Homo sapiens: one gene and its partners. The protein of the gene in region 4 interacts with the protein of the main gene of each other region in a biochemical or structural test. Each region holds a gene or a part of one and is shown on either strand. Other genes may lie near its edges.

Region 1 (6,352 bases), on a different chromosome or scaffold from region 4:
TCCATTCTGTAGGTGGTCTGTTTACTCTGTTGATAGTATCTTCTGCTGTGCAGAAGCCCTTAGTTTAGTTAGGTTCCACTTGTCAATTTTTGTTTTTGTTGAAATTGCTTTTGGAGAGTTTGCCATAAATTCTTTGCCAAGGCCGATGTCAGGCAGGGTATTTCCTGGGTTTTCTTCTAGGACTTTTACAGTTTGAGGTCTTACATTTAAATCTTTAATCCATCTCAAGTTAATTTTTATATATGGTGAAAAGTAGGGGTCCAGTTTCATTCTTCCGCACATAGATAATGAGTTATCCCAGCACCATGTATAGAATCAGTCCTTTCCCCACTACTTTTTTTTTTTTTTGAGATAGAGTCTCACTGTGTCACCTAGGCTGTAGTGCAGTGGCGTGATCTTGGCCCACTGCAACCTCCCCCTCCCAGGTTCAGGCAATTCCCCTGCCTCGGCCTCCTGAGTAGCTGGGACTACAGGCATATGCCACCACACCCAGCTAATTTTTGTATTTTTTTAGTAGAGATGGGGTTTCGCCATGTTGACCATACTGGTCTGAATCTCCTGACTGCAAGCGATCCACCTGCCTCAGCCTCCCAAAGTGCTAGGATTATAAAAGGTGTGAGCCACTGTGGCCAGGCCCCATTACTTATTTTTGTTGACAATGTCAAAGATCAGATAGTTGTAGGTGTGCAGCTTTATTTCTGGGTTCTCTATTCTGTTCAATTGGTCTATGTGTCTGTTTTTGTATCAGTGCCATGCTGTTTGGATCACTGTAGCCTTACAGTATAGTCTGAAGTCAGGTAATGTGATGCCACTTGGCTTTGTTGTTGTTGTTTTTTTTTTTTTTTTGCTTCTAATTGTTTTGGCTATTCAGGCTCTTTTTTGGTCCTATATGAATTTTAAAAGAGTTTTCTCTAATTCTGTGAAAAATGACATTGGTAGTTTGACAGGAGTAACATTGAATCTGTCAATTGCTTTGGGCAGTATGGCTATTTTAATGATATCAATTCTTTCAGTCCATAAGCATGAATTTTCAACAGTGTTTTGTATTTCTCCTTGCAGACATCTTTCACCTCCTTGGTTAGCTGTATTCCTAGGTACTTCATTTTTGTGTGTGTGGCTATTGTAAATGGGACTGTGCTCTTGATTTGGCTCTTAGCTAGAACATTTTTGGTGTATAGAAATGCTGATTTTTGAAAACTGATTTTGTACCCTGAAACTTTACTAAAGTCGTTTATCAGTTCTAGAAGCCTTTTGGCAGAGTCTTTAAGATTTCCTAGGCATAGAATCATATCATCAGTGAAGACAGAGTTTTACTCCTTTTTTTTCCTATTTGGAGGCCTTTATTTCTTTCTCTTGCCTGACTGCTCTGGCTACAACTTCCAATATTATGTTAAATAGGAATGGTGAGACCTTGTCTTGTTCCAATTCTCAAGGGAAATGGTTCGAGCTTCTGCCCATTCAATATGATGTTGGCTATGGATCTGCAAGACTATTTTCAGAATGACATTGTAAATCCATAACAGCAGTTCCAAAGAACTGAGGAACCTTTACACATTGCTTACACTATTAAGCATTTCAGGGGTATGTGTGATCTAAATTATTTTCCATTAATACTAACATCTTGGAGAGAAAGCCTTTTTCACTAAGCTAATGTTTGCACACATGGTGCAAAGGCAACAATGGGTAAAACTACCGGTAAGAAAGGCAATGGCAAAGTGAAACAGCCATCATCACATTCTACAGTGCTATGTGCTTGGAGAAAAAAAAAAAAAAAACAACAGAAGGCCAAGCACAGTGGCTCACACCTGTAATCCCAGTACTTTGGCGGGCCAAGGGTGCAGGATCGCTTGAGGCCAGGAGTTGGGAAACTAGCTTGGGTAACAAAGTGAAACCCTGTCACTACAAAAAAATATTTTAAAACTAGCTGGGCATGGTGGCACACACCTCTTAGTCCTAGCTACTTGGAGGGTGAAGTGGAAGGAGCCCTTGAGCCCGTAAGTTTGAGGCTGCAGTGAGCTAGTATCATGTCACTGCACTCCAGCCTGAGCAAGAGAGCAAGACTCTTACTCTAAAAAATAAAAATAAAAAAAAATAGACCCAATTTCACTTTGAAACATCCTTGGATGAAGCAGTAAAAATTAACTTTACTAAATCTCAACTCTTCAGTAGATACCTCTTTAATATTGTATATAACAAAATAGGAAACATACATGGAGCATTTTTGTTGCAGATCAAAGTCAGAGGATCAAGGAAAAGCACTGTAATTGAGTCGCTAAACTAGCCACTTTTTTCCATTTTTACTGAAAAGAATGGCAAAGCAATTGTGGTTATTCAGACTTGGGTATTTGTTAGATATTTTCTCAACAACAAACTAAACCACTAACAGTAAAGAAAACAATGGATAGCATTTGTTGCTAATGATAAAAATTAAAGCTCTCCAGCCAAAATTACAATTTTGAAAAATGTGTAACAACTATTCTGAGCTTGATAGCTTCCTGGTACAAGAATTTTCTAATAAGGTTGGTGAATTTAATGAGCATGTTATTTTGATATCTTAAATAATAAATCTGGAAACATTTGAAAGATCTGCATAACTCAGTGAACCAGTATTTTCCCAATGAACAATGAATGTCATTACAAAAATCATACGTGGGTAAAAGATCCATTCAGCATGCAGGATAAACCAGTAGACTCTAAAGAATATCCACCATGATCTGGAGAAAAGCTATTTTTAAAAAAATAATCACTATTCCAACCACCTCTCTTCACAAGACCAGATATTCTCCAAATACTCCCAAAAAAATAACATATCACAAAACAGATTAAATGCAGAAGATATGAGAATCCAGCTGTTTTCCATTAGGTCAGCCACTAAAGAGATTTGCAAAATTGGTACAGCAATGCCACTCTTCTCATTCAATTCTGTTGTTGTTTTGAAACTCGGTTTTCACTTAAATGTCAGTTGTGTTAACATTTAATGGGTTTACTGTTATTTGTTAATAAACAAGCTGGGCACGGTGGCTCATGCCCGTAATCCTAGCACTTCGCCAGGCCAAGGTGGGATGATTACTTGAGCTCAGGAGTTTGAGATCAGCCTGAGCAACATAGCAAGACCCTGTCTCTACAAAAAAAATCAAAAAATTAGCCAGGTGTGGTGGCACATGTCAGTGGTCCCAGTTACCTGGGAGGTTGACGTGGGAGGATTGCTTGATCCCAGGAGGGTCAAGAAAGCAGGGAGCCTTGTTCACGCCACTGCACTCCAGCCTGGGTGACAGAGTTAAGACCCTATCTCAAAAAAAAATTTTTTCAATAAAAAAAGTTAAGCATTTTTCAGTTTTAATGTTAACCCCACAAAAAACAAAATGCCTTGGGGAGTCCTCAAGTTTTAGGAATTTAAAGGTATCCTAAAACCAAAATGTTTTAGAACTGCTGTTTGTCGTTCTAAAGTAAACAGATCTTAAAACTAGAGGTAATATTTAATTCCTAACTGTTTCTATCTGTCCATAAAATTCACACATATGTTTTGTGGTTAAAAAGTCTTTAATATTTTATGGGATACGTATTCATTTCCAACAGGTCTCTTCATCTAGAGTATTCCATTTCAGAGAAACAAGTCATCATATCCCCTTTCAAAACTAGCATACCTTGAAAAGGGAAGATCAAAAGCTCAATGTTTACTTTTAAAAAGACACCCGTAAGTTGAATTAAAAATTTGTTAGTATGAGGTATTTTAGACATCTGTAATAAAAACATCTTCCCAAATGAAAAACTAACCATTTCAAGTGTGCTCTAACATCTTACAGGCAGCATTAAAAACAGTAGTAAAGAAGGTATTTTAATATTTATAAACTATGCTTGTTTTTGCTGTATAATATTTGAAATATACACATTTTATACTTGGAAAAAGGGATAATTTTTATGTGAAAAATATAATTCTAATTACGTGGTGAGAGAAATCTGTATATTATAGTAGTTCAAAAAATCCAAATCCATTTGTTTGTTATATCCTCAGCATGTCTTAAGCATATAATATGAAATATTTGCTAACTTCTATCTCCACTCTTTTTAGTGCACCTACATATTTTACCTGAAAGAGGATGTAAGAAACCAAAGGCATATAATTTGGTAGCTAAAAGACACAGCATCTTGGCACTCATATAAACATCAACGATCATCATGTTTAACATTCTCATCTGCAAGATGAGAATCTTATAGATAAGGAAAGTGAGGCCTAAGAGCATTAACTAACTTCTGTGGTCCCAAAGCTTGGTGTCTATCTGGACATATAAGAACCGAATTTCATTATCTATTGATAGCCTGGCTTTCTGAGATTTCATAATTCTTTTTTCTTTTCTTTTCTTTTTTTTTTTTTTTTTGAGACAGAGTCTTGCTCTGTTGCCCGGGCTAGAGTACAGTGGTGCAATCTCAGCTTACTGTAACCTCTGCCTCCCAGGTTCAAGCCATTCTCCTGCCTCAGCCTTCCAAGTAGCTGGGATTACAGGCGTGCGCCACCACACCTGGCTAATTTTTATATTTTTAGTAGAGAAGAGATTTCACCATGTTGGCCAGGCTGGTCTCAAACTCTTGACCTCAGGTGATCCACCTGCCTCGGCCTCCCAAAGTGCTGGGATTACAGGCATGAGCCACTGTGCCCAGCAGAGATTTCATAATTCTAATAACAATTTCCTATTGACTAAATAATGAACCTTTTCTCCAAGGCCCTTTGTAGAGTAAGGGAGGCAAGACTGATGTACAGAAATAATATATATATCAAAACATCATGTTGTATACCTTAAACATATACAATTTTTTTAAAAAGGTAAATTTTCAAAAGAAATATACAATAGGTTTTTCTAGCCAAGATTTATAGTCTTTACAAAGCTTTCAAGAAGCAAAAAACAAAATTTATCAAGAACTACATTTAAAATAAATCTCAGGCCGGGCTTGGTGGTTCACGCCTGTAATCCCAACGCTTTGGGAGGTCAGGGCAAGTGCATCACTTGAGGCCAGGAGTTTGAGACCAGCCCAGCCAACATGGCAAAACCCCGTCTCTACTAAAAATACAAAAATTAGCCGAGCGTGGTGATGCACACCTGTAATCCCAGCTACTCAGGAAGCTGAGGCAGGAGAATCATTTGAACCCAGGAGGCAGAGGTTGCAGTCAGCCTAGATCACGCCACTGCACTCCAGCTTGGGCAACAGAGCGAGACTCTGTCTCAAAACATAAATTAAATAAATAAATAAATTAAATAAATCCCATTTAAAAATATGCATTTCCCAATTACAACATGTTATATGGATTCCTCCAGAATTTGCAGGATTTTATAGCACTACTTACCAAAAGTTGTTCCACCAGCTTCTTCACATTTTGCCCCATTTCTGGGGACTGTGATCCACTACATGCTAGTTTTATTAACATTGCAAGGAAGTTCTTGCATTTCTTCACATTTTCTAGCATTGTCTAAATATGAAAATGTAAATATAAGCAAACACAAGTGTTAGTGAGCAAACAATTCAAAAGAACTTGCAAGGAACAAGATTTATGTAAGGTGCAAGTAAGAGCTTACCGGAGAAAGATTAATCTGAACAGCTGCTGAGTTCTCTGCTTTAAGATTGGGCTCATTTGAAGGAGTGGATGATGCTCCCAAACTTGAAGGCTTCAGGGTAGTTACAGTATTCAATGGCTTTCCAGGAGTAACTGTGACGACACTGGTTGGCACAGCCACAGACTGAAATTAAAGGTATTAAATATTTAGGCATGTATTACTATGATACATTAGTGGGTGCCTCATTTCACACTCATCAGACAAGTTAATTTTGACATCTGTGGTTTTATGTTATGCTCTAGTAGTCTAAGGCAATATAATACAGTTCTAGGAACTCTTGAGTCTAGCAGATCTGGGTTTCATTCTCACCCCATCTACTATTTCATTACCACCTACCAAGTGTTGACTGCAGGCAAGTTACTTAATCTTGCTAATCCTGATTACTCTCTGCAAAAATAGGGATTGCAACGGTACCTGCTGTCCTAGGATTTTTTGTGAAAAACAGTGCTAAAGCAAATAAGTCCTCAAAAAATATTATTAATACTCCAAGAAGTATCTGAAAGTCTTTATGAGAACATAGAATATTCTGCTTTTTCTTAAGAACAAAGCAGAGCAATCTACTTATTATCTAAAATTTAGATAAACTGCTTTTATGTAGACCATTAAAGTAAGCATGAAGAATATTATAAAACGTGGTATCTTATATTCACACTGAAAAGAATTTCAGTTGTTTCTCTACCTTCTATCAAAATGAGGTGTGACTCTAGCTAGCATCACCTACAGGACAAAAACCTCATACAAGCAAT
Region 2 (6,352 bases), on a different chromosome or scaffold from region 4:
TCAGTCTACCAAGTGGGTCTTCTGCTGAAAGACATTTGGAATTCTGCTCTAAAATCAGATACAGTCTCCTTGCAAAGACCGACACACAAGCTGCCCTGCGTCTCAGGCCTTCGGTGCTCATCGGGATGGGTGGGAGGTACAGACGCCCACCCTCCTGTCACTGATCGGGTCACCCCTGCCCTCCCACCCAGGAAGGGGCCAGCAGGTGGCAGAGCCAGGACACAGGCCAGGCCTTGAAAAAAAGGTGCAATTTTGGGTTTTCTTGAAGATAGACCAAAGTTCACGATGCTTGGAAAGCTCACCTCATTGGTGGGAGAAGCCCAGGCGTGTGGGCACAGGTCCTGGGGACGGGACTGACGGAGACGCCCTCCCAGATGCAGCCTCCCGTGCCTCCAGTGGACAGGGGTCAGTCAGAGCCTGCCCAACCCCAGCCTGGGGAGGGACCCACTGAGAGCTGATCCCTCTGATGCCCATGAAGCCGGCTGAGGCGGGGGCATCCTGGCACAGACCCCAAAGTCACCCCACACCGTGGACAAGTCTCAGAGACTCACCTGCTAAGCCCTCTCCCACCTACCACCTTCCCTCCATCTCCCTCTACACCTGCCCCTCCCCTGAAATCCAGGCCATCATGAAACCAACAGCACAATCAAACCCCAGTGGGCCTCTAGGCCCCAATTCCCAGTGCAATAAAAACATATCATGCAAATCTGGTCAGTTCAGTCCTTCTTCTGGAAACAGGTCCCGTCTGCACTGCTCTAATGGCCACCCGTCCTCGCTATGCACACAGGAAGATGTCCACGGGCCCCATTCCCCAGTGCAATCCCACCCAGCAGCCACCCATTCTCTCTATGCACACTGGAAGATATCCATAGGGCCCCCCCATTCCCCAGTACAATCCCACCCAGCAGCCACCCGTCCTCGCTATGCACACGGGAAGATGTCCACGGGCCCCATTCCCCAGTGCAATCTCACCCAGCAGCCACCCATTCTCTCTATGCACACTGGAAGATATCCATAGGGCCCCCCCATTCCCCAGTACAATCCCACCCAGCAGCTACCCGTCCTCTCTATGCACACGGGAAGATGTCCACAAGCCCCATTCCCCAGTGCAATCTCACCCAGCAGCCACCCATTCTCTCTATGCACATGGGAAGATATCCATAGCGCCCCCCCATTCCCCAGTACAATCCCACCCAGCAGTCACCCGTCCTCTCTATGCACACAGGAAGATGTCCACGGGCCCCATTCCCCAGTGCAATCTCACCCAGCAGTCACCCATTCTCTCTATGCACACTGGAAGATATCCATAGGGCCCCCCCATTCCCCAGTACAATCCCACCCAGCAGCCACCTGTCCTCTCTATGCACACGGGAAGATGTCCACAAGCCCCATTCCCCAGTGCAATCTCGCCCAGTGGCCACCCGTCCTCTCTATGCACATGGGAAGATGTCCACTGCCTTTCAAATAGGTTCTCCCCATCTGGAACGCTCTCCCCTTCCTGCCACCTGCCCTGAGCACCTCCCACCACTTAACCCACCAACTTTAGACCAAAGGTGACAGTCTGCTTCTTCCCCGGCCTCGCTGAAGAATCCTATCGCCCGGATATCCGTCAGTATACAGGACTCATTCCTATTGATTCATCATTATTAATCTACGTCACTAGTTAACATGGCTAGTTAATGTGATTAACGTGCACTAGTTACACAAGTTAACATGCACGAACAGAGTGCCCTGTGCCTTCATTATTTCATGTTGCTGTCAGCACTAAGAGTTCGGGGCCACACAGACCCTCGGACGCCACTGGGTTTTGCCCACAGTCTCTCCCCGGGTCACAGCACGAGACAGAGGCGATGTTCGTATGCAGTTGCCTCCTCAGAAGGACTCCAAGAGATGCTGGCATTTCTTATGAAATAAGCGTCTTACATAGAAAGATGGCTGCTGTCACAGAAATACTAATGGACTTTGGTGCCAGGCCCCAATCGGTGTGGCCTTAGGCAAGCCACATAACCCCAGACAGCTCCGGCAACCCACTGGGAAGCTCTAGAAGGAAGAACCCAGAGCAGGTCTGGAGAGACAGGGAGAGACGGCCCTGAAAGAGAGAGGTGTGTGGCCCGGGCCTGGGGGTCCCAACACCCCGCAGGGTGCTCATGGGGATGGAGACTGGGTGCAGCCACCACTCATCCTTGGTTTCTCGTGGGAGCAGGAACCCTTTCTAACAACAACCCCAACCTGACTTTAAATTAACCAGTTCCACCTCCTACAGACCTGTGGACCACAGAAACACATCCAGGTGTGAGATGCTGCCGTCAGCGTGGGCCCCCATGTTGCCGCCTTTGGCCCTGGTCATCTCGTCCGTCAAGAGGGCCAGCGTCTGTCCTTGGGGGTCACGGTCAGGCGGTCCCCCTGCTCTTCACAGCCACTGTCTGGCCTCAAGGGTCAGTTATTCCTGAAGACGAATGGGGACAGCTGTGTGTGCTGGAAGTAGGGCCTCACCCAAAGAGGGCTCAGATGTGGAGAATGTGACACCGGGAGAGCTCAGGTCACCCTGTTCTTCCCACCGCACACATCTCCAAGCCAGAGAGGTCTGCTCGGTGTCCCAGACCCCGGGTGCCCACACCCAGGCTCATATACCCATTCACCCTGGGCACCGAGGGACCTGGTTTTGAGGAAAAGGACATAGTTGGCCAGCAGTGGGCACCCTGGGGCTGGCATCAAGGAGGCTAGAACTGTGGGAACCTACTGCGAGGTAAGGGGCTGGAAGAGCTGGGAGCCTGCACCTGCTCTGGACCTGGATCTGCCAGTCCTCGACTCTCCTGGAGGCCTCAAGTGACAGGCAAGGCCCCATCAGCACTGCCCAAAGTCCCGTCCATCACACACCACCCTCAGGACACTTTCGCCAGAACCGCCTCCACCCCAGACTGTTATTTATTCCACGATTTTCTTCAAGGCCCCTTTTATTTTGAAAGATCTGTTTTTTAAAAGAAAACTGCAGCCTTGCCCCAGTGGGGACCATGTCTGCATCAGAAGGAAAGTCGGCAGGTGCGCATCGGGGCACACTCCTGCAGCTAGGGGGCTGCTGTCTCTGCTCAGCACGGGGAGGCCGGTGCCTGGGTGGCCCCAGGCCTCAGCAGCATGAGCTTTTGCTCCTCACCTTCCACCAGACGGCTGGGAAGGGAGTTGAGTGCGGACTGAGCTATTTGCCGCCTCCTCCAGGCTCCACTTGAAATCGTCCTTTGCAGGTGGTCATTGTCCTTCTTTCAGGATAACCCAAGGTCCCCCAGCCCTGGGGCCATGGGCGTCCAGCTAATTGGGCATCTTCCCTTTTCTCTCTCTAGGCCGGCCGAGCGAGGCCCTGGGACCGTGACCTGCAGGGGCAGTTGCCACCTGGGGTGGGTGGGAGGGGGAACAGTGGCCTTTCTGGAGCTGGCGCTGCCTTCCAAGGAGCCCTGCTCCCAAGGAACAGACACGGTGGCTGTGCCCTCCCAGGTACCTGCAGGCAGCTCCCTCTCGTGGGCTGACCCAGCGGAAGCCCTTTGTTCCTTGAAGCTCACCCGCTGGTTAGTCCTGGATTCTAGCTGGACTCATTCTTCCCCTTTTGGCAGATCAATCAGTGTCAAGAACTTTGGTCCTGCAGAGTCATTTTTCTTTGTTCAGGCATGTTCTCCCAACCACAGTCTTTGTCCCAATCTGGATGGAGCAATTATGAAGTCTGTATTTCAGTCCAGAAGCTGCCCGAATCCTCACATGCCAGTGGGATGTCATTCATTCTTTGCATCCATAATTGTGCATGATAGAAATTTAATTATCGCCAGCCCCAGCCCAAGGCACTGCATGCCCGATTTCAAGCTGAATAGAGGTAGATAATATCCCAAGACTCTTTAAAGGTGGCAATGGCCGGTTACCAGGCAGCCAGGAGCCCAGCTATAAATAAACCTCCGCTGGCCCTAACCAGCTGTGCTGTAGACCACGTGGCGCTCCATGAATTGGATTGGGTGGTTCTGAGCAGGAGAGATTTAATGGAACCGTTCCGAGGGAAGGCTTTGGAGACTCGCAGGCATCGTTCTCCATTACAACAATATTTCTGGGCTCACGTTTAATAGTAAGATGAATGACTTGAGATTAAAGTGAGCACCCAGGGGCCGGACAGCTGAGGGGACAGAACTCAGAGCCTGGAGCACGCAGGTGCTAATCTCGGACAAGCCTCCTGCCCTAAGAGCCTTGGTTTCCCTCGCTGTGGAGCGGTGGTTGGAAGGCAGGGCTGGCCTTTGAAGGCTACCCCTGTTCTTGGTTGCAGGACCTGTCTAGGGGCACCAGGCTCTAAACCTGCCTGATTGGCTTGGCCACGCCAAGGGCCTAGCCAGAGGCTGCTATCTCAAGCAGCTGGGTCTTCACCCAGATCCTCCAACTGGAAGTTCGTACTCAGAAGGGCCCTCGGAACAGCCGTGGCTGAGTCAGGCCAGCCAGGCAGCAGCAAGCGGGGTCAGCAAGCAGGTCAGCCCCCTTCTAGGACAGATCACATCCTCCTGGCCTAGGCCAGCCCTCTTGTGCCGTTCCCTGCAGACCAGGAGACCTGGACCTGGACATGGAGCAGCTCCCATGGCACACTTGGTTCACAGGTGAGGGTCCCCTGCTTCCTCAGGAAGACAGACCTCTTCACAAATGAGAACTCACCTGTGAGCATCTCCAAGCCCAAGGCAGCAGGGAGAATAGGGCCCAGCATCTAGACTGAGACCCTCATGAGGCTCAGGCACCTGCCCAGCCCTGGCTTCCCCAGATGAGAAGGATCAGCCCACCTTGAAATGCTGCTGCTGTACAAAGACCCCACCCAGTAGGAGAGCTTCCCCCAAAATGCTGCAGTGTTGGAGACCCTGCCCAGCAGGTGCGCTGTCAGGCTCCGCTCTCACCTCTTTACTCGTATTTGCACATTTAAGCCCCAACAACCCTGTGAGGCCAGATGTATTTGGGAACTGCAGGTATTTCGATGACAAAGGCACACGTGGTGCATGGTGTGGATCATGGCATGCCCACACGGGTCTAGGGCAGAACCCCATAATTAAACCCACTCCTGTTCCTCAGAGGAACATGTGACTATTCAATGTAACAGAGAAAAATCAGGACTTTTAACTAGCCTCGACAATTTAGGTTTTGCCCCTAAATACGTTCAGCCTGAGTCAGTTTTCGCTAGTGAATGGGTTTTGCTTGGCATTCAGATTTGTAAGTCAGAGTCCAGATTATACCAGGTCCAGATTATAACCTTCTCTGTGTTCTCGGTGAGAAACCAGGTGCTGGAGGCGTTAATCCATTTGCCCACTTCCACTCTGGCTAATGGCTGGCAGAGCCAGGATTCACCCCCAGATCTCCTGGGCCAGAGCCTGCTGTCCTGCCTGGGTGATGCGGCTGTGTCTGCCCATCGTCCTTGCAGGCCCTGCTTGGCCCTGCAGAATGACTGAGCAGCCAGCCTGTCCTTGGACGGGTCCCCACCCCAGAAGACTGGATGAGAACCAATGTGGCCAGCATGGTCTAGGAGGCGAGCGAGCGAGATCAGCTGGGGCAGGCCTTCAGTAGGCACAGGAATTAACCAGGACACACCCAGGCGGAGGCCACACCAGAATCCTGGGGTAGGGATTCCCTGGCAAGGGCTCTGTCCACACCCCTGCAATGTCAGGCAGCCTGGGCACCACTGCCCCGGGACAGCTGGACCAAAGAGGGGTGGCAGTGAGCCAAGCCTAGCTTGTCCAGATGGACAAAGCACTCCTAAGGTGGGCAAAGATGCCCCAGGTCCCAGGGGGCCCCACACTCTCCCTGAAGCTGCTCTGGGAGCTCCTGGCACAGAACTCCCACACCTCTTCAGTGTTGGTGTTGGAAAGCTGACCGGTCGGTGAGGGAGGTGGCGAGCTGCAGTTGCCTGCCAAGGGCCTGGTGGCCTTTGGAATCCACAAAGCCCTCCCTCTGCTCAGACCCTGCCTGTGCACACGAGGGGACTGTTGTGGAAGGCCACGCACAAAGTACTAGTTAATATTTAACAAGCTTGCTCACATGCACATCTCATCCTATCCTTGCATTGGTCCCACGCAGCGAGATCCCACTGGACAGATGGGGAAAATGAGCTGGAGAGAAGCTCATACGGACAGCGGCACTGGGGACTTTCTAACTTGCGTGCTGCTCCTCCCGAACGCCCTGGCTGGTGTGCACGGCTCTCTCATTCCTCTCCCTGCCAAGACGGACCCACCTGGAAGGTAAGCTGCCCGACAGACCCTGTGGAAGGTCCTCAGCCCCTCCCAGTGGAGCCCCCTCCTCTCCACACGGCCTGGCTGGCGTGCACGGCTCTGAAGTGCTCGTTCCTCCTCAGGAT
Region 3 (6,352 bases), on a different chromosome or scaffold from region 4:
ACCGGCCACCAGGTGATAAAATGTTAGCTAGATTATATACTTATTACATGTGCATGTGGCATTACAAGGCTTCCATGTCTTCAAGGAAACAATAGTATTTTATTTTATCTGCTAACTAGTCTACTTCAGTGATTTAATGTGTCTGGTATTTGGAAGCTTTGCCTTGATATTAAGTAAAAATTTCAAATATAACTTTTGAAGGCACATACACACACACATTCTATTCAAATTTGTCTTTGTTATTTTAAGTCCTCATAAAATCGGACTGAAATGTGGTTGGGCATGATGGCTCATCCACCTGTAATCACAGCACTTTGGGAGGCCAAGATGAGCAGATCGCTTGAGCGCAAGTGTTCAAGACCAGCCTGGGCAACATGGTGAAACCTTGTCTCTACTAAAAATTTTTTAAAAATTAGCCAGGTGTGGTGACACGCACCTATAGTCCCAGCTACTCAGGAGGCTGAGGTGGGAGCATCACCTGAGCCCAGGAAGTCGAAGTTGCAGTGAGCCATGATCATGCCACTGCACTCCAGCCTGGGACCCTGTCTCAAAAAAAAAAAAAAAAACCATGAAATGTGAAGTGCCTCTTTATTCTTGTCAATGTCAAGATTCTAGTTGGCATCAGAACAGGATAAGATTAAATGGAGAGATGATTTCACTCTAATCCTGCTTGCCTGCCTTTCCTGCAGCGTTTCTTCCTGGGGCTTCTCAAAGCAGGGAACTACCAGGGTTTAAAACAAGATGATCTTTTTTATAGAAGTTTCATTAATGAGTCTTTAAAATATAAAGAAGATATAAAGAATAAAAGAGACACCCATGTATCTACCACATAGGTTAATAATTTATAATAAATAGGACCAATATTGGAAGCCCCCTTTGTTGTATCCTCTCTGATTATAAAATAATACTATCCTTTAAATGTTGAAAAATTATGTCAAAGATGGAAAAGCTCCTAAAATTAATTCATTCAAACCTAGATATTATAGAACCAAGGCCAGCTGCCACAATATCTCTATACCTGGTTATCTTGGCCTGAGCAATGACTTGTAACTTTATTCCCCTATGACACGGTTGAAGATACACAACCCTTCACACTTAGGCCACTCTCCCCTGTGTGTACAGAGGGTATGTTTTGTTTCTTCCTCACTAGTTATTTCAACTTCTTTTTGGCATGAAAATGAGAGCGACATTATTTTAGGAGTAACCTTTAATCTACCCCTAATTTATGTATTTTAAAATTGAATCCAAACAAAAAGCTAAATCCATCATGATATCAATACTTTGTGTTATTTATTACAAATTATTTGGGCATATCACACTTCCCGTCAGTGAGATGCAGCAGCATAGCTGAGACTGGGAGGTCATCAGTCTTTGGGGAGTATGTCCAGAAGGCATTGAGAGCAGGAACATGCCTGCTTGCCTCAGACACATCTGAACTCTTCTTATAAGAATCCCAGGGGTCTTTGTATACATTTATTGCCTTCTTTCTGCAAACTGGGGGCCTGCAGGCTGAATTTGGCCTATAATGGTTTTGAGTTGCTATGCAGTGTCTTAAACAAAAGTCCGAGTTTAAATGCCTTTAAATAGGGCATCTGCTCTGCAGTTTGGCACTGTTGACAGGACTCCTGCTGTCTTATACCAGTCCACTTCTATTCTCTACTACCTGCCTGGCCCCTAAAGGCATAGGAGTTTGCATTCCCTGAGTAATAAATTCAGTTTGTGATTGTGTTATGGGCACTATGTGTGTCCTGGCTTTCCCTCTTCACCATTCTGTCACGTCAGCCCCAATCTGTCTTATCATTAGTGCCTTTTGGACTGCTGCCTCCAGCTTCTGGACTCTGTAGCAGCCATGCCCTTAACTGTTACTTTTGAGAGGCTGCTATATTGTCTATGCTGTCCTCTTTGGTATTTACTGTCTGGTGGGCTGATTTTAAAGATAAAAGGCATCCATGTCATAACCCTGACATCAACAGGCTTTTGTAGCAATTACAAATTTCTTAATGTGGGAACCCCAGACTGAATGTGAAAAATAGGAACCCACTGTATTTGACTATGTAGTCGAAAGGACAGTTGAACCATAGAAATGCCATGTTATTGGCTTTATAAAGGTGAAGAAGTTACTCGGGCCTAAAATAAAAAAGGATTTTTTTAAAAATCTTCAAAACTGGATTCTACACATTGTATTCATTGATACCATGGAAATCTTTGGCCAGAAGACATTAATTGAGTGCTGAGTCTGACCCACAAAATTTGGTAGCTGCTCTATGAAAATGTTGAGTCAGCATTTCTTTTGACTGCCAGAGCCAGTTGTTCTTATTCCTACACCTTCTTAAAACCTCCCTAATGTACTCTTCATGCAACAATGGAATAAATCTAGTTTGTGGAACTGGAATTGTATCCCATATATGCCCAGCTGTATGCCCACTTTTTCCCACAGAACCACCGTTATTCTTGGTTTGCGTATCTTTTTATCTTTTCTGATTGTAAGGTTTTGGTTCTAAAATGCCAAGTAAAATCTTCACAAAAAAAGAGAATAATTTGAGATGTTGCCCTCTGCATATCTAGAAGACATTGTCCTTCAGAGTTCTTTTCCCAAAATTATTTTTTATTCCTGAGGGCTATGCTTCTGCCTTACTTATTCTCCAGCTGTGGATTCATGGAAAATATTTCTCCAAATAGAGATTTGCATGTAAGAAAGTAAGTGCAAATTAATATCCATAAAAACTTCAATGCCCTAATTTTATTTTCAATGTGTATATCAGCTTCCATTAGCTCCTACTGTTTATTAAACTGATTTACACCTGAAGGGCAATTTTAATTCAGTCGGTTTCCCCCAAAGGATTAAGCCTGAAGGATGCGGCGTAGTGTATGGAGCCAATGAATTGGAATAATTTTAAATTCCTCTTTCTTAAGGAACTGAATCCTAGAATTTTATATTTTACTTCTGTTGAAAGAATAAAAAGGCTGTCTTCAGTGCTGTTATTTTCAACAAAACCACATCTTAAAAAAATTATTCCTGTGCTAACAGAAGAAGTGAATCCTAAATGCTTTACTTCATTCACAAGTACATTGAAATATTGATTATGACTACATGAGACCTGAATCTTGGGTGGCCAGGCACTTGATGTTGATGGAGTTTTTCTCATTTCATCTGAATGTTTGGCTGGTATAGACACAGCCATTTTCAGTGCATAGCACAGAAAATCAGGCTCTTAGTACAGTCATGGCTCATTCAGATCCTACACACCGAGGAGCTCCAGGTTTTTTGATGCTTTGCTTTTTGCTTCCTTAAGCACTGTGCCCCTTTTGCTTATGTCAAGTAATGAGGGGCTGCCCCCTGCCCCAGGAGTGGGCATGCCTGAGCTGTTTGTGCATAGTCTGTGCCACCTAGATGAGTATTGCTTGGCTATACTCTAAAGGTAGCAACATTTTCTTGCTGAAAAATCTAACTTCCCTAATTTGGGGGGCTTGTTTTAGGTTATCCTTCTCAACCAGTTGAACAGAGGCCACTTCAGCAGATGCCTCCTCAACTCATGCAGCATGTGGCACCCCCACCACAGCCACCACAGCAGCAGCCACAGCCACAACTGCCTCAGCAGCAGCAGCCACCACCTCCCAGTCAGCCACAGTCTCAGCAGCAGCAGCAGCAGCAGCAACAAATGATGATGATGCTCATGATGCAGCAGGATCCCAAATCAGTTAGGCTTCCAGTCTCTCAAAATGTCCATCCTCCAAGGGGCCCCCTGAACCCCGACTCCCAGAGAATGCCCATGCAACAGAGTGGCAGTGTGCCTGTCATGGTCAGTCTGCAAGGACCTGCCTCCGTGCCACCATCACCTGATAAACAAAGAATGCCAATGCCTGTGAATACTCCCTTGGGAAGCAATTCAAGGAAAATGGTCTATCAGGAGAGCCCGCAGAATCCTTCCAGCTCGCCACTGGCGGAGATGGCCTCACTCCCTGAAGCAAGTGGCAGTGAAGCACCATCTGTCCCAGGAGGCCCAAACAACATGCCTTCACATGTAGTACTTCCCCAGAATCAGTTAATGATGACAGGGCCAAAACCTGGACCATCGCCCCTTTCAGCAACTCAAGGTGCAACTCCCCAGCAACCCCCTGTAAATTCCCTGCCCAGCTCTCACGGCCACCACTTCCCAAATGTGGCTGCGCCAACCCAGACATCTAGGCCCAAAACACCAAACAGAGCCAGCCCCAGACCCTATTATCCTCAGACACCCAACAACCGCCCTCCCAGCACAGAACCTTCAGAAATCAGTCTGTCACCAGAAAGACTCAATGCCTCCATAGCAGGACTCTTCCCTCCACAGATTAATATTCCTTTACCTCCTAGGCCAAATTTAAACAGGGGCTTTGATCAACAAGGCCTAAATCCAACAACTTTGAAGGCCATCGGGCAAGCACCTTCAAATCTTACCATGAATCCTTCCAATTTTGCTACCCCACAAACTCACAAATTAGATTCTGTGGTAGTGAATTCTGGAAAGCAGTCTAATTCTGGAGCAACAAAACGGGCAAGTCCAAGCAACAGTCGCAGGTCTAGTCCTGGGTCCAGTAGGAAAACCACTCCAAGCCCTGGGAGGCAAAATTCAAAAGCCCCTAAACTTACTCTGGCCTCTCAGACAAATGCAGCCCTATTGCAGAATGTGGAGTTGCCGAGAAATGTATTGGTCAGTCCCACTCCTCTGGCCAATCCCCCTGTACCTGGGAGCTTTCCTAACAACAGTGGGCTGAATCCTCAGAATTCTACTGTGTCTGTGGCTGCAGTTGGGGGTGTTGTTGAGGATAACAAGGAGAGCTTGAATGTGCCTCAGGACAGTGATTGCCAGAATTCCCAGAGTAGGAAGGAACAGGTAAACATTGAACTAAAAGCAGTCCCTGCCCAAGAAGTTAAAATGGTTGTCCCTGAAGATCAGTCCAAAAAGGATGGGCAGCCTTCGGATCCTAACAAACTTCCCAGTGTCGAAGAGAACAAAAATTTGGTGTCTCCTGCTATGAGGGAAGCACCAACATCGTTAAGTCAACTTCTTGACAACTCTGGAGCTCCCAATGTGACAATTAAACCCCCTGGGCTTACAGATCTGGAAGTAACACCTCCAGTAGTTTCTGGGGAGGACCTCAAAAAAGCATCTGTCATTCCCACACTGCAGGATCTGTCTTCTTCTAAAGAACCTTCTAATTCCCTAAACTTACCTCACAGTAATGAGCTGTGTTCATCCCTTGTGCATCCCGAATTGAGTGAGGTCAGTTCTAACGTTGCACCAAGCATCCCTCCAGTAATGTCAAGACCTGTTAGCTCTTCCTCCATTTCCACTCCCTTGCCCCCAAATCAAATAACTGTATTTGTCACTTCCAATCCCATCACAACTTCAGCTAACACATCAGCAGCTTTGCCAACTCACTTGCAGTCTGCATTGATGTCAACAGTTGTCACAATGCCCAATGCGGGTAGCAAGGTTATGGTTTCTGAGGGACAGTCAGCTGCTCAGTCTAATGCCCGGCCTCAGTTCATTACACCTGTCTTTATCAATTCATCCTCAATAATTCAGGTTATGAAAGGATCACAGCCAAGCACAATTCCTGCAGCCCCACTGACAACCAACTCTGGCCTGATGCCTCCCTCTGTTGCAGTTGTTGGCCCTTTACACATACCTCAGAACATAAAATTTTCTTCTGCTCCTGTACCGCCTAATGCCCTCTCCAGTAGTCCTGCTCCAAACATCCAGACAGGTCGACCTTTGGTCCTTAGCTCACGAGCCACCCCTGTTCAGCTTCCTTCCCCTCCTTGTACGTCTTCTCCAGTTGTCCCTTCTCATCCCCCTGTGCAGCAAGTGAAAGAATTGAATCCAGATGAGGCTAGCCCTCAGGTGAACACCTCAGCAGATCAGAACACTCTTCCCTCTTCACAGTCAACCACAATGGTTTCTCCCCTTTTGACCAATAGTCCAGGGTCCTCTGGCAACCGGCGAAGCCCAGTCTCGTCTAGTAAGGGCAAAGGAAAAGTGGACAAAATTGGCCAAATTTTGTTGACCAAGGCATGTAAGAAAGTTACAGGCTCTCTTGAGAAAGGGGAAGAACAATATGGTGCAGATGGAGAGACTGAAGGCCAAGGGCTAGACACCACAGCTCCGGGGCTCATGGGAACAGAGCAGTTATCCACAGAGCTGGACAGTAAAACCCCAACGCCCCCAGCACCCACTCTGCTAAAAATGACCTCTAGCCCTGTGGGCCCGGGCACTGCCTCAGCAGGACCCAGCTTACCTGGCGGTGCTCTCCCCACCAGTGTACGCTCGATAGTAACCACTCTGGTACCCTCCGAGCTCATCTCCGCCGT
Region 4 (6,352 bases):
GCACTTCTATACAAAACACAAATATCAAATAAATATACAAAAAGAGGCTAAAACTCCTAAGTGAGGAAATGCAAACTAAAACCAAAATGAAATAATACTATTTTCTACCTACCAGACCAGCAAAAATCAGGAAGCCTGACACTATCAGGTATTGATAAGGGGGTATGGACATCTGCACAATTATGTATTGAATGGCAGAAGTGATTTGGCATTTTATTATAAAGTTGCAGATGTGCATGACTTAGGAGCCAGAAGTTCAATGTTCGGTATAAAATTTAGAGAACCTCTTGCATTTGTGTCCCCAGAAGACATACACTACAATATTTTATAACTGTTTGTAACAGTAAACAACAAGAAACAATCCTTATGTCCACTGGATTAGAAAAATTGACAAATAAAATTATGGTATATTCAGCAATGAAAATAATTATAGCTATATGCAACAACTTGGATAAACCTCAGGAATATCATTTTAAGGGGAAAAAACCAACTTGCAGAAGAATACGTAATTACTTCATTTACGTTGTAAACATGCAAAACTAAACAATATGCTATTTAGGAATATAAATATATATGGTAAAATATAAAAGCAATTAATAATCAACACAAATGTATGAGCAAAGGTACTTTGATGGCCTAGGAATGATGGGATTAGGGAGAGGCATCTAAGGCACTTTAAATAATGGAATTTTATTTTAACTAGATGGTGGGCACCAGGATGATTTTTATCTTGAAACATTTCTATTCATTTGTGTCTATTCAATATTCAATAATAAACTATGTTTTCTTCAGAAAAAAAATTACTTAGATAATTTAGAAGAACTTTGTACTAAGAAACAAAAAGACTGCATTTTAGGCTAACGAAGGCAATTAACAGTGAAAATTGTGGTGGGACAAATAGTTTTTGGAGCCTAGTAACTAAGCTGAAATAGTGAGGAAAACAAAGGCATATTTATATGCTTCTAGAAGAACACAGACATTAAGGGTACATAGGTTTTTAAGGAAGTGGTATAGAACATGGACCAAAAGGTTTTAAATATTTAATAAATTTGTGACATTTGGTTCTTGAGTTTGCTCTCTCCCCAAATGTTGCCACGCTTTTTAAATTACTGAAGCAAAAGATTAACCACATCTATTTATCTACCAATGTCTTATGTTTAAGCCACATTATAAATGCGTAAGCCAGAGTTAGAATTACCTGTACTCTTTACTACACATATTAATACAATTTAATTTGTTATACATTTTTTATTACCAGCTATATGAAAGTTATATTTTATGAAGATAAATATAGCCAGAATATAAAAACCTTACTAAAGTTAAAACAATCTAACTTTATCTTTAAAATCTTATGTTGTACAGCACCTAACAGTCTCTGAAAAAAACAGGATATAATTTATCAGTGTTGTACCAACTAAAAAAGGAAATAATCAAGTAGATTATTTTAAGTATGTTACTAGAAACTTACTTCTTCCACCTGCCCATCTTCAGCTCCATCTTTCTCTTTGTCTTCCTCCTCATCATCATCATAGTCTTCTTCTTCATCTTCATCTTCTTCAGATGATGTATCCCCAGTTCCATCAACTTGTAAGACCAATGGAGCTTGTGTTTGAGCAGGCTGGGCCTGCGGTTGCTGCTGGCCAGTTGCAGTTATCTGTGCTTGGGCTGGTGTAGGTGCTGCCACTGTCGTAGGTATAACTTGAGTCTTATTTCCTGTAAATAAGATTTGCTGAGGCTGGATGATGACACCTGTCTGTGGTGAAATCCCTCCAGGAAGAGGAGCCAGCACCTAAAGCAAAAGAAAACCACATAACAGTAACTAGTTAAGAGGATCAAGTATGGTACACAGAAATAGAAACAAATGCTTAAGATTCACCAGAATGGCCATATTTCATACACAGTTAAAAACTACCAAAGTACAAAAGCAATTAGTTTAACTAGTGTAGTGACCCATTAAATTTCTATTTTATCAAATTTCTAGAAAATAAGGATTTTCTAAAGATAACTGCTTCATTTATTGAGCACATACTATGTATATGCCAGCTACCAGGACAAAAGTTATACACTGCCTTCACATGAAGAACACTGGACTGAGAATCTGAAAACCTGGGTCTACCTTTTTTTTTTTTTTTTATAGATGGAGTCTCGTTCTGTCACCCAGGCTGGAGTGCAATGGTGTGATCTCGGCTCACTGCAACCCCTGCCTCCTGGGTTCAAGCAATTCTCCCACCTCAGCCTCCTGAGTAGCTGGGACTACAGGTGCGCGCCACCATGCCCGGCTAATTTTGTTATTTTTAGCAGAGACGGGGTTTTGCCATGTTGGTCAGGCTGGTCTCGAACTCACGACCTCATGATCCGCCCGCCTCCCAAAGTGCTGGGATTACAGGCGTGAGCCACAACGCCTGGCCAACCTGGGTCTACTTTTGTCTAAAGTCAGACATAAATACAGCAGACGCAAGTCATTTAACTCCTCTTGGCCTCTGTCGTTTCACTGTCAAACTAGGCTTAATGGTTCTCAATCCTGGCTGCAAATATGAACCACCTGGCAACTTAAAAAGTACTGATACCTTGGCCATACCCCTAATATTCTGACTCAGTGTGAGATAAAAGCTAATTATTTTTCTAAAAACCACCAGATCAGATTTCTGAAGTTCCTTTCCAGGTTCTGCATCTAGGATTCTAAAGTAAGCCACAACTTGAAAAAATATATACTAACAAATATTAACTATATGTATTATAATAAAGGAGGAGGACTAGATGCTTGTTACTTGCCATTAGGTTCAAGGAATGCAAAAATAAGACACAGTATTTCCTTTAAAATGCTTACACGTGGTGTAACAACACAAAAGACAAAAAAATGGTATAATAGACAAAGCACTAACAACTCAAAAACACAGCAGATGTAGTACAAATATGACACAGTGTTATGGGAACACAAGAGAGTGTACCAAATTCAACTTAGGGGACAAAGCATGATCAAATATTACTTATATTATTAGTAAGTAGTTTCTGTTTGTGCTTAAAGGCAGCGGTCCCCAACCCCTGTTAGAAACTGGGCTGCACAGCAGGAGGTGAGTGGTGGATGAGCCAGCATCACCACCTGAACTCTGCTTCCTGTCAGATCAGCAGCAGCATGAGATTCTCATAGGAGCAGGAACCCTACTGTGAACTGCACATGCAAGGATGGAGGTTGTGCACTCCTTATGCCTGATGACCTGAATTAAAAGTTTCACCCCGAAACCATCCCTGCTGCCCAGTACATGGAAAAATTGTCTTCTGCAAAAACCAGTCCCTGGTGTCAAAAAGCTAAGAGACTGCTGCTTTAAGGAGATTAGCCAGGTTTTTCTATTTGTTTGGGGGAAGTGCAGGGAGTTGCCAGACGGCATTCTTAAGAGAAGTGTAACATCAAGTGAAACCCAGAAGTGACAGCAGTACATAATTTTGGAAAGATGTAAATAAACTGGATTAATAGTACTGCTCTGATCTTGTCTCTATCATAATACTATTTTACTGACATTTAAAAAAGAGACAGACACATAAACATATAAAGTACATAAGTTCCTCAAGAAAATAACCATTCCTCTTTCATTTTAGTGCCACAGCACAAGAATATAACACAAGTAGATCCAAGTGTTTATTTTGATGTAAATGCAGCTAAAGAAAATAACTGGGAGCATGGCAAGAAATAAACCTGGAGAGTTCAAAGAAACAAGATCCACAAAAAGATTTTATAAACCATGTTGAGTTGTTTAGGCTCTTCTCAGTAGGCAATGAAAAGCTGTTAAAAGTTTTAGGATTTTTAGAAAGATAGGCCAGGCACAGTGGCTCACGCCCATAATCCCAGCACTTTGGGAGGCAAAAGCGGGCAGATCACCTGAAGTCAGGAGTTCAAGTCCAACCTAGACATGGTGAAACTCTGTCTCTATTAAAAATACAAAAATTAGCTGGGCACAGTGGTGCGTGCCACTAATCCCAGCTACTCAGGAGGCTGAGGCAGGAGAATCACTTGAACCCAGGAGGCGGGAGTTGCAGTGAGCTGAGATTGCGCCATTGCACTCCACCCTAGGTGACAGAGACTCTGTCTCAAAAAAAAAAAAAAAAAAAGATGACTATAAATCAGCCAGGTTAGGAGGGCAAAAGATGAGAGGCAGAGAAACCATTAAGAAGACAATGCAGCATTTTAGTGACAAATCATGGACAGTATGAACTAAGGAAATGAAAAAAGAGGCTGAGAAAAAAACAGTGTCAAACATATTAAGGGACTGCAACCATGGCAAAACTGCAGTTAAAGAAAAAAAAAAGGCCGGGCGCAGTGGCTCACACCTGTAATCCCAGCACTTTGGGAGGCCGAGGCGGGTGGATCACAAGGTAAGGAGATAGAAACCATCCTAGCTAACACGGTGAAACCCCATCTCTACTAAAAATACAAAAGTTAGCCAAGTGTGGTGGTGGGCGCCTGTAGTCCCAGCTACTTGGGAGGCTGAGGCAGGAGAATGGCATGAACCCAGCAAGCAGAGGTTGCAGTGAGCTGAGATCGCGCCACTGCACTCCAGCCTGGGTGAAAGAGCAAGACTCTGTCTCGAAAAAAAAAAAAAAAAGAAAAGAAAAACTATTAACAAGAATTGGTAGGGCTTGATACCTTGGGTATTAGAGGTAAGGAAAAGGGAGGATTCTACACACCCACTTCCAGTAAGCATCATAAAACTAGAGTCATGTCTGTGTCATTCACTCCTAAATCCCCTGACCCTTGTGAATACCCCGAGACTCAGTAACTGCTTATTGAATAAAGGCTGAATGACCAGCTTAGGAAGCTGGAAGGAGAGTGCTGCCACCTTCGAGGGGATGATGAAGGATGGGCAGAGACAACAGTAATTGTTTAATACATGTTTAATACATGCTGAATCTAAGTTAAGCTGTATACAGGAGAAATTTGAAACAACTGGGTCTGTAGCACTGAAAAAGAGTCTTTTGTGCATATAAGGAGAGGGAAACTACCCAGGGAATACATACAGAATAAAACAGAACCCCATACTGATCATAATAGAAGATTATTTTACCTGCTGTATAACAGGAGCTTGTACTCCACCAGGCTGCATTTGTGGTATAACCTGTTGTTGTAGAACCACTGACTGCTGAGGCTGAAAGATATATTGGGCACCATTGGCTGCTCTGACCACCTGAAGAAGCTGGCCTAAAGCAAAAAGCATGCATTCCGAGTTATCATTTTAGCAGTGACCATCTCAAAAGAAATGAATTCATATTTAATTTCATACCACCAAAGGCACAAGAAATTATCAAGAAAACTAACAATTTTATTAAAGGTTGTCATTCATACACAGTATGCATAATCCTCCCCTTCTCTGACTTCTCGCCATGTTCAAATACATTCCTTAAAATGTTTTATTTTTCATATTTACATCCTCATTCAGCTATTTCCAACAAGGTTTTAACAACAGATTATGAGACTTGACTAAAGCTTACATTATCTTTGCTAACCTTAGGAGTGAAGAAAGAGCAGTAAGATCAGACACTTCGGGAGCTGTTCATTTTTAAAGCTTTAAAGGAACAAAAGCTTAATAGCTCATTTAATATCTTGAACCAAACAAAGCACCAAAGAACTTTGCTTCAAAATTGGTAAAAGCAATAAAAGTTCACAGAACCAGTTATCATCATTGTCATACAATTCACACAGAATCAAATTCCCCCAATATGTTCCTTTAGACAACCCAGAATCTTGAATTGATTAAAAAGCAAATTACATCTTATTAAAATATGTAGCAAGACAAGCCCCTAATTTCACAAATTTACAAATTAACAAAAATAACATACACAGAATAGAAAATAAATAATAACTATATAATCAAGATTATAGGGAACACTTAAAATCCATGTAAATAAATTTTTCAAGCACCAATATGCCAAAACACATGAGCTAGACATTGGTCTTTTGTCAATGAAGAGATACTATGTATAATAATAGCATACAATAAATTTGCTCTTAATATGCTCTAGGAATTACTTTGATATCACAAGTTCAAAGAAGTTTAATACTCACTTGGCATGTTAAATGTGTTCAGTAAAAAACTAAGTAAGCATTTTTATATAATCATACTTCAATAATAGGGTTATCATGCACAGATCAAAGGTTCAAGTACAATTTTCATCTTCTTTACTGTATCCTCAACAACGATTACAGTTATATGTGTTACAGCCCTCAAATAAAGTTATTTTAATAACCTAAACCAAATGGTAAAAGAAATATTAGTATTTTCTGTCTTTCAAAGAAGACAAAACCTAAGGGCTAGATAGTACAATTTTCTGAATTACATTTTAAAATGGTTCCATCATTCCT
Region 5 (6,352 bases), on a different chromosome or scaffold from region 4:
TTTCTTTGTTCTTCTAAACACCAAGCCCCTTTTTTCTTCACACACCTGCTGTGGTTCCTCCTTGATGACTCCTGTTTTCCCTAAGAGAATTCGACTCTTCTTCAGAGATGATTCCTTCTTACTCTCCTTGGAGGGGGAGTTAGAGGTGGCCTCTTCCTTCTCATCAGGAATTTCTGAGAATAAAACAAAAATCACTTGAGTTGCTCTCCCTGAAGATTCACCTTTCCTACAGACAAGTATCCAGTTTTCTTCTTTAAGGTGACGGATGTTCCAGTGAAGGTCTTAACTAGACCTTTCATCCCACCCCCCCCCAGGTAACTTCTAGTCCACGATTTACTAACTGAACTACACCTGTATCTTTTCATCCCATCCCAAATCACTTCTAGTACATGATTCACTAAGTGAACTACACGCTTGACATCTCAAAGGTACTACTTTCCGACAGTCCTACATGAGTTTTCCCTAGGGAATACACAAATAATAAAAACTAACTGCCACAATTTTGCTCTCTCAAACTGCTACCTAGAAGTTTCGAGTCCATGATTCACTAACGGAACAAACTATGCTCTTGACATCTCAAAGTTGCAACTTTCCAACATTCCTACGTGAGTGTTCCCTAAGCATATACACAAATAATATAAACTAACAGCCAAAACTTCGCTCTCTCAAGCCGCTACCTACAGGTTTCTAGTCCTAATCATCTCCAACCCTTCTGATTTCCTCCTGCCCGTTGACATTAACAGCAAGTTTTCAAAGGAGAAGAAACACTGGCCTCTGCCAGTAATATACCCAAAATGAGGTTCTCATCATTGGGATCAAGTGTCAAAACAGGAGGTTCCAACAGCCGGGGCATGGCCTGAGCATCCCAAATGATATTGTCCTCCCAGCGTCCATATACCAGATCCTCATTGTCAATGGGAAAAATGGAGTACCAAGGTTTGTCATCATCAAGAGTGGCTGCAAAACCTAGTCAAAGTGCAAGGAGGAAATAGTAACAGAGAAAACATTTATGCCCCTTTCAATCAAGATTCTGGCAAAGATAAAAAGAGTTACTCATGTTAGTAGAGCGAGTTAGTGGAGTTATTCATGTGTCCACTGAAAAGGAACCTACACAGTGTATTTCTCACTTTAAAATAATGTTGCAGGCTCAGCACGGTGGCTCACACCTGTAATCACAGCATTTTGGGAGGCCGAGGCAGGTGGATCACTTCAGGTCAGGAGTTCAAGACCAACCTGACCAACATTGAGAAGCCCCATCTTTACAAAAAATACAAAAATTAGCTGGGTGTGGTGGCACATGCCTGTAATCCCAGCTACTCAGGAGGCTGAGGCAGGAGAATCACCTGAGCCCAGGAGGCAGAGATTGCAGTGAGCTGAGATCGTGCCATTGCACTCCAACCTGGGCAACAAGAGTGAAATTCTGTCTCAAAAAATAAATAAATAAAAATAATGTTGCAGTCAAAAATGTCCACTGCAATACTGTTTATAATAGTTGAAATTTAAATAGCCTAAATGTTTAAGAAGGAATTGGTTAAATTATGACAATAAATGATATGGTAAAGTATGCTAACAATAAATGGTAATAAATTGTATTAACAAATGCAACATGTTATCGGTAAATTATGAAACATTCGTAATAGTAATATATAACCCATAAAGTGGGCAGAATGGAAGGGAAAAAACCTATTTCTTAGGTTTTAAAAATCAGACATTTTTGTATCCGGGTGTGGTGGCTCACGCCTGTAATCCCAGCATTTTGGGAGACCAAGGCAGGCAGATCACTTGAGGTCAGGAGTTCAAGACCAGCCTGGCCAACCTGGTGAAACCCCGTCTCTACTAAAAATACAAAAATTAGCTGGGCACAGCGGTGCACGCCTATAATCCCAGCTACTCGGGAGGCTGAAGCACAAGAATCACTTCAACCTGGGAGGCAGATGTTGCAGTGAGCCAAGATCGCGCCAACACATTCCACCCTGGGCGACAGAGACTCTTGTCTCAAAAAAGAAAAAATTTTGTTTTTCCTCCAAAATATAAAAGTAATCCAGCTTTCTATGTTTATATAGTCTGCTTTTTTTCATTTACACTAATAGGATATCATATATGTTGTTTCATATCTTCTTTATTTCCATTTAAAATGAGTTTCTCAAGCCAGACGTGGTGGCATGCCCCTGAAGTCTTGGCTACTCGGGAGGCTGAGGCAGGAGGATCACCTGAGCCCAGGAGTCCAGCCTGACCAACAATAGCAAGACTCTACCTCTACAAAAAATAATAATTTAATTAAAATAAAATGAACGAGTTTCCCATGTCATTAAACATTTTTATAAAGAACTCTAAATGACACAAAAATATTTATGTGGCTGGGTGGGGTGGCTCTTGCTTGTAATCTCAGCACTTTGGGAGACCGAGGCAGGAAGATCACTTGAGTCTAGGAGTTTGAAACCAGTCTGGGCAACAAAGTGAGGCCCTGTCTCAACAATGAAAAATAAAAAATGAAAGAGAGAAAAATATTTAGTAAGTGAAAAGCACAGTATGCAAAACTGTACATACGGAAATGAGCTCAACTACATACACACACAGAACACTGAAAATACACCAAAACTTAACAGTTGATAATCTCCAGATAGATTACCAGTGACTTTAACACTATACTGTATTTTCAAAGTTTTTTACATTAATCATGGCATACCTTAAAAAAAAAAACCTATTTAAGGAGAAAAATAGGAAACTAGAATTCTAAATACAAAGGGACTTGGGAACAAAAATATACTATAAAGTACTGTTATAGTTCAGAAAGATCTTTAACTTCAGGCCAGGCGTGGTGGCTCATGCCTGTAATCCCAGCACTTTGGGAGGCTGAGGCAGGTAGATCACCTAAGGTCGGGAGTTCGAGACCAGCCTGACCAACATGGAGAAACCCCATCGCTACTAAAAATACAAAATTAGATGGGCATGGTGGCGCATGCCTGTAATCCCAGCTACCCGGGAGGCTGAGGCAGGAGAATCGCCTGAGCCCAGGAGGGAGAGATTGCAGTGAGCTGAGATTGCGCCACTACACTCCGGCCCAGGCAACAGAGCAAGCAAGACTCCGTCTCAAAAAAAAAAAAAAAAAAAAGATCTTTATCACATGTTTTTAAGAAACCTGAGTCTGGCCTAGCTTCTTAACAGGGCAAAAAATTACATGGACTATCTTCCTCCAGGTTGAGCATAAAAATAAAATAAAAATTACAGGGACTAGAATTAGGCCTCAGATCCTAAAAATTTCACTATCTCTTGGCAGCTCAGAACATCACAGCCAGCCGGGCGTGGTGGCTCACACCTGTAATCCCAGCACTTTGGGAGGCTGAGGCGGGTGATCACCTGAGGTCGGGAGTTCGAGACCTGCCTGACCAACATGGAGAAACCCCATCTCTACTAAAAATACAAAAATTAGTCAGACATCGTGGTGCACGCCTGTAATCCTAGCCACTCCAGAGGCTGAGGCAGAAGAACCGCTTGAACTGGGGAGGCGGAGGTTGCAGTGAGCCGAGACTGCACCATTGCACTCCATCCTGGGCAACAAGAGCGAAACTCTGTCTCACCGAAAAAAAAAAAAAAAAAAAAAAATCACAGCTGAGCCCACTTATGGTGACTAAGATTAAGGGCAGTATCTGCTAGACACAGCTGGCACAGAAGCACACCTTGCTGAACATTGTAAGCCATCGCATTCCTAGTCATGCTAGAAGGAAGCCAGCCTGCCAGGCTTGCACGCTGAGGTTTTGTCCCTTTGTGTTTGACATCCTCCCCATCCCAGATGATATCATCCTCCCAATGCAGCTGTGTCACCATCAGGAAGTTTTCATCAGCCAGAAGATCAGTGCCATTGTTTTCCTCAAGTTTCCTAAATTCCTGTGTAAGTAGGGAAGAAAAAACACATCCTTGATTGGTCACTGGTCAAGGTTTCCACTCCAAATTCCACATTAAAGATACATCAGACACATTGTAAGTGGTCCTTTACTTGAAACAACCACCTGATAACGGAGGAATATTTGCCTCTTCCCACTCCTAGTCTGGCACAGCATTCATTTCACAAACAGAATCCTTAGAATAGGACCTAGCTACCAGGGTGATACACCATACCAAATAAAAGGCTGAGACACCTCAATCTCCCACCAAAGAAACCCTACCACCCAGTATCTCCCCAATTAAAGAGTAAAGTTAGTAAAAGTAATAGGACCTGAGTACATTGATTCCTTTCTTACATACCAGTGTTGCTCACCTCTATCATTCTAGATTTTATCACAGGTTCATGTTCTGTCTTTCTCAGTTTGAAGCCATAGTCAAACCCACTGCCATCTTCAGGGACACCCAGCATATCATACCACAGTCGGGCAGGCCCATAACGCCACTCAGCCACTCTTGGTTTGGTATCTGTCACTTTATCTATATCTCCAGTTGATTGGGAAAATTTGGACTCCACAGGAGCCATCATCGTGATCTGTAACAGAAGAAAGAAGTAGAGCAGGGAGAATTTCCTGATCCCAGATGTCCTAAGGCTATAGAGAGTTAACAGTCAGGAGGGGAACTTAGAGAAACTGAGGATGATTTACCTGGAGTTAGAATGTAAACAATGGAGATGTATCATAGCACATTCCACCTATCAATCAAACCTTCTTATTCAGCAGCATATCACCATCTACCCCTCTCATCCCCGCCTACCCCACCAAACATTTTTCTTTTACAATAGGGAAGGGGCAGCCACTGAGATTGAACCCATGATTACTCATTGAAAATTAGCACAGATTCTATCTGCTATGGTATTATTTACAATTTAGACATAAATTAGGGAGAACTCATTGAATTCATTTGTTCCTCTCATAGGCCTTAATCTCAGGTCTCTATTTTGCCTACTTCATCATCAGAGAGACACTGCTCTGGAGGTGGTGGTGGAGCGTAGTCGTAGTTCCACAAAGACTTCTGGCTGACTTCTGATTCTACTGAGCACTCCACCTCCTGGATCTGCTCTTCCTGTATCAGCTCACGGTGCTTCTTCTTCCTCTTTCTCCGAGCACTCCGCCAAACAGATGGGACATTCTTCCCTGGTCCAAAAAGACGTAGAAAACGTAACACCTAGAACACAGAATACATTACTATGACACAGACTCAAAGTCAGATGGGAAAACAGCAGCATCTGGGCCTGAAAACTCCCTTGAGAGATCTCTTCAAATGTGGGGGAGAAACAAAGGAGTGTCGCATTCAGACTTGTAACGTCTAAGAAAGTAAAGAAGCGTTCCTTAATAATTTGGGCTAGTTCTTTTAAGATAACAGAGAAATTTCCAATGAGAACAGCATAAATCACATTTACTATCAATACATACAACTTTAAAAAAAAGACCTAATACAGTGTGAAGAGCTCTTATGTAGCCAATAATATGTCACTGAGTAAGGAAACCCCATTCCATACTCAGCATCTTAACAACAAAACTCATTATTTGGAAGAGGTCAGTGGTTTGCAATCTGAGCATTCTCCACAGAATGTACCTTTCCAGGTCGAAATTCTGGAAAAAGTTCTGTGACACTTGGCAACAGCTTGGTGGCATCATGCTGCATAATCCCAGCCAATGGAAGGGTCAGCTTTCCATCTTCAGATTCTGCCTGTGTTGCTTCCTGAGGTCCCATCTCAGATTCTGAGTCAGAGGAACTACTGAAGTCCACTTTCTCTGAGGCCAAAGAGGAAGGGGCAATGATGGAGGGCAAGATGATGCCTTCTCCATTTTCAGACACTGCAACAAGGAAGAGAAACCCCTTTGGCATGTAACTGTGAACATATTTCCTCGAATTCCGCAAACACCCACTTTAGGCTATACACATGGCTCAATGCCAGGAGATATAGGCCCAAGCACCCAAATCATAATACTAGTATGCAACCCAGAAAACTCATTCTAACTCGTTATCTCCCATCGTCCCCCAACTCACCACGTACCTGGTACCCTAGGGTTGTGATGAGAAAACAAACACTATTACTACATTTACTACTTTCCGATTTTTTGTTGTTTTTTTTTTTTTGAGACAGAGTCTTGCTCTGTCGCACAGGCTGGAGTGCAGTGGTGAGATCTTAGCTCACTGAAACCTCTCTCTCTCGGGTTCAAGTGATTCTCCTGCCTCAACCTCCTGAGTAGCTGGGATTACAGTCATGCGCCACGACAGCTGGCTAAATTTTTGCATTTTTAGTAGAGACGGGGTTTCACCATCTTGGCCAGTCTGGTCTTGAACTCCTGACCTCAAATCATCTGCCTCCACCTCCCAAAGTGCTCGGATTACAGGTGTGAGCCACCACACCTGGCCCTACTTTCTGATAAGTAACCAATATTGTAAC

The links.
Region 1: the proteins of GTF2A1 (region 4) and TAF4B form a complex in vitro, tested with the Homo sapiens proteins (one study listed by BioGRID).
Region 2: of the proteins of GTF2A1 (region 4) and FAM20C, one has a biochemical effect on the other in vitro, tested with the Homo sapiens proteins (one large-scale study listed by IntAct).
Region 3: the proteins of GTF2A1 (region 4) and NCOA6 form a complex in vitro, tested with the Homo sapiens proteins (one study listed by BioGRID).
Region 5: of the proteins of GTF2A1 (region 4) and TAF1, one has a biochemical effect on the other in vitro, tested with the Homo sapiens proteins (one study listed by BioGRID).

Annotation. Positions count from the first base shown.
Region 1 is NC_000018.10:26,274,040-26,280,391, reverse strand, and holds part of TAF4B (transcription initiation factor TFIID subunit 4B), read right to left. Parts: intron 5,730-6,352; coding exon 5,568-5,729; intron 5,462-5,567; coding exon 5,339-5,461; intron 1-5,338. UniProt on the Homo sapiens protein: Cell type-specific subunit of the general transcription factor TFIID that may function as a gene-selective coactivator in certain cells.
Region 2 is NC_000007.14:197,268-203,619, reverse strand, and holds part of FAM20C (extracellular serine/threonine protein kinase FAM20C precursor), read right to left. Parts: coding exon of another isoform or gene 6,120-6,352; exon of another isoform or gene 2,937-6,119; intron 1-2,936. UniProt on the Homo sapiens protein: Golgi serine/threonine protein kinase that phosphorylates secretory pathway proteins within Ser-x-Glu/pSer motifs and plays a key role in biomineralization of bones and teeth.
Region 3 is NC_000020.11:34,740,467-34,746,818, reverse strand, and holds part of NCOA6 (nuclear receptor coactivator 6), read left to right. Parts: coding exon 1-12; intron 13-3,477; coding exon 3,478-6,352. UniProt on the Homo sapiens protein: Nuclear receptor coactivator that directly binds nuclear receptors and stimulates the transcriptional activities in a hormone-dependent fashion. Coactivates expression in an agonist- and AF2-dependent manner.
Region 4 is NC_000014.9:81,191,051-81,197,402, forward strand, and holds part of GTF2A1 (transcription initiation factor IIA subunit 1), read right to left. Parts: intron 5,192-6,352; coding exon 5,058-5,191; intron 1,790-5,057; coding exon 1,469-1,789; intron 1-1,468. UniProt on the Homo sapiens protein: TFIIA is a component of the transcription machinery of RNA polymerase II and plays an important role in transcriptional activation. TFIIA in a complex with TBP mediates transcriptional activity.
Region 5 is NC_000023.11:71,376,357-71,382,708, reverse strand, and holds part of TAF1 (transcription initiation factor TFIID subunit 1), read right to left. Parts: intron 5,760-6,352; coding exon 5,518-5,759; intron 5,107-5,517; coding exon 4,888-5,106; intron 4,475-4,887; coding exon 4,256-4,474; intron 3,886-4,255; coding exon 3,678-3,885; intron 967-3,677; coding exon 790-966; intron 174-789; coding exon 46-173; intron 1-45. UniProt on the Homo sapiens protein: The TFIID basal transcription factor complex plays a major role in the initiation of RNA polymerase II (Pol II)-dependent transcription.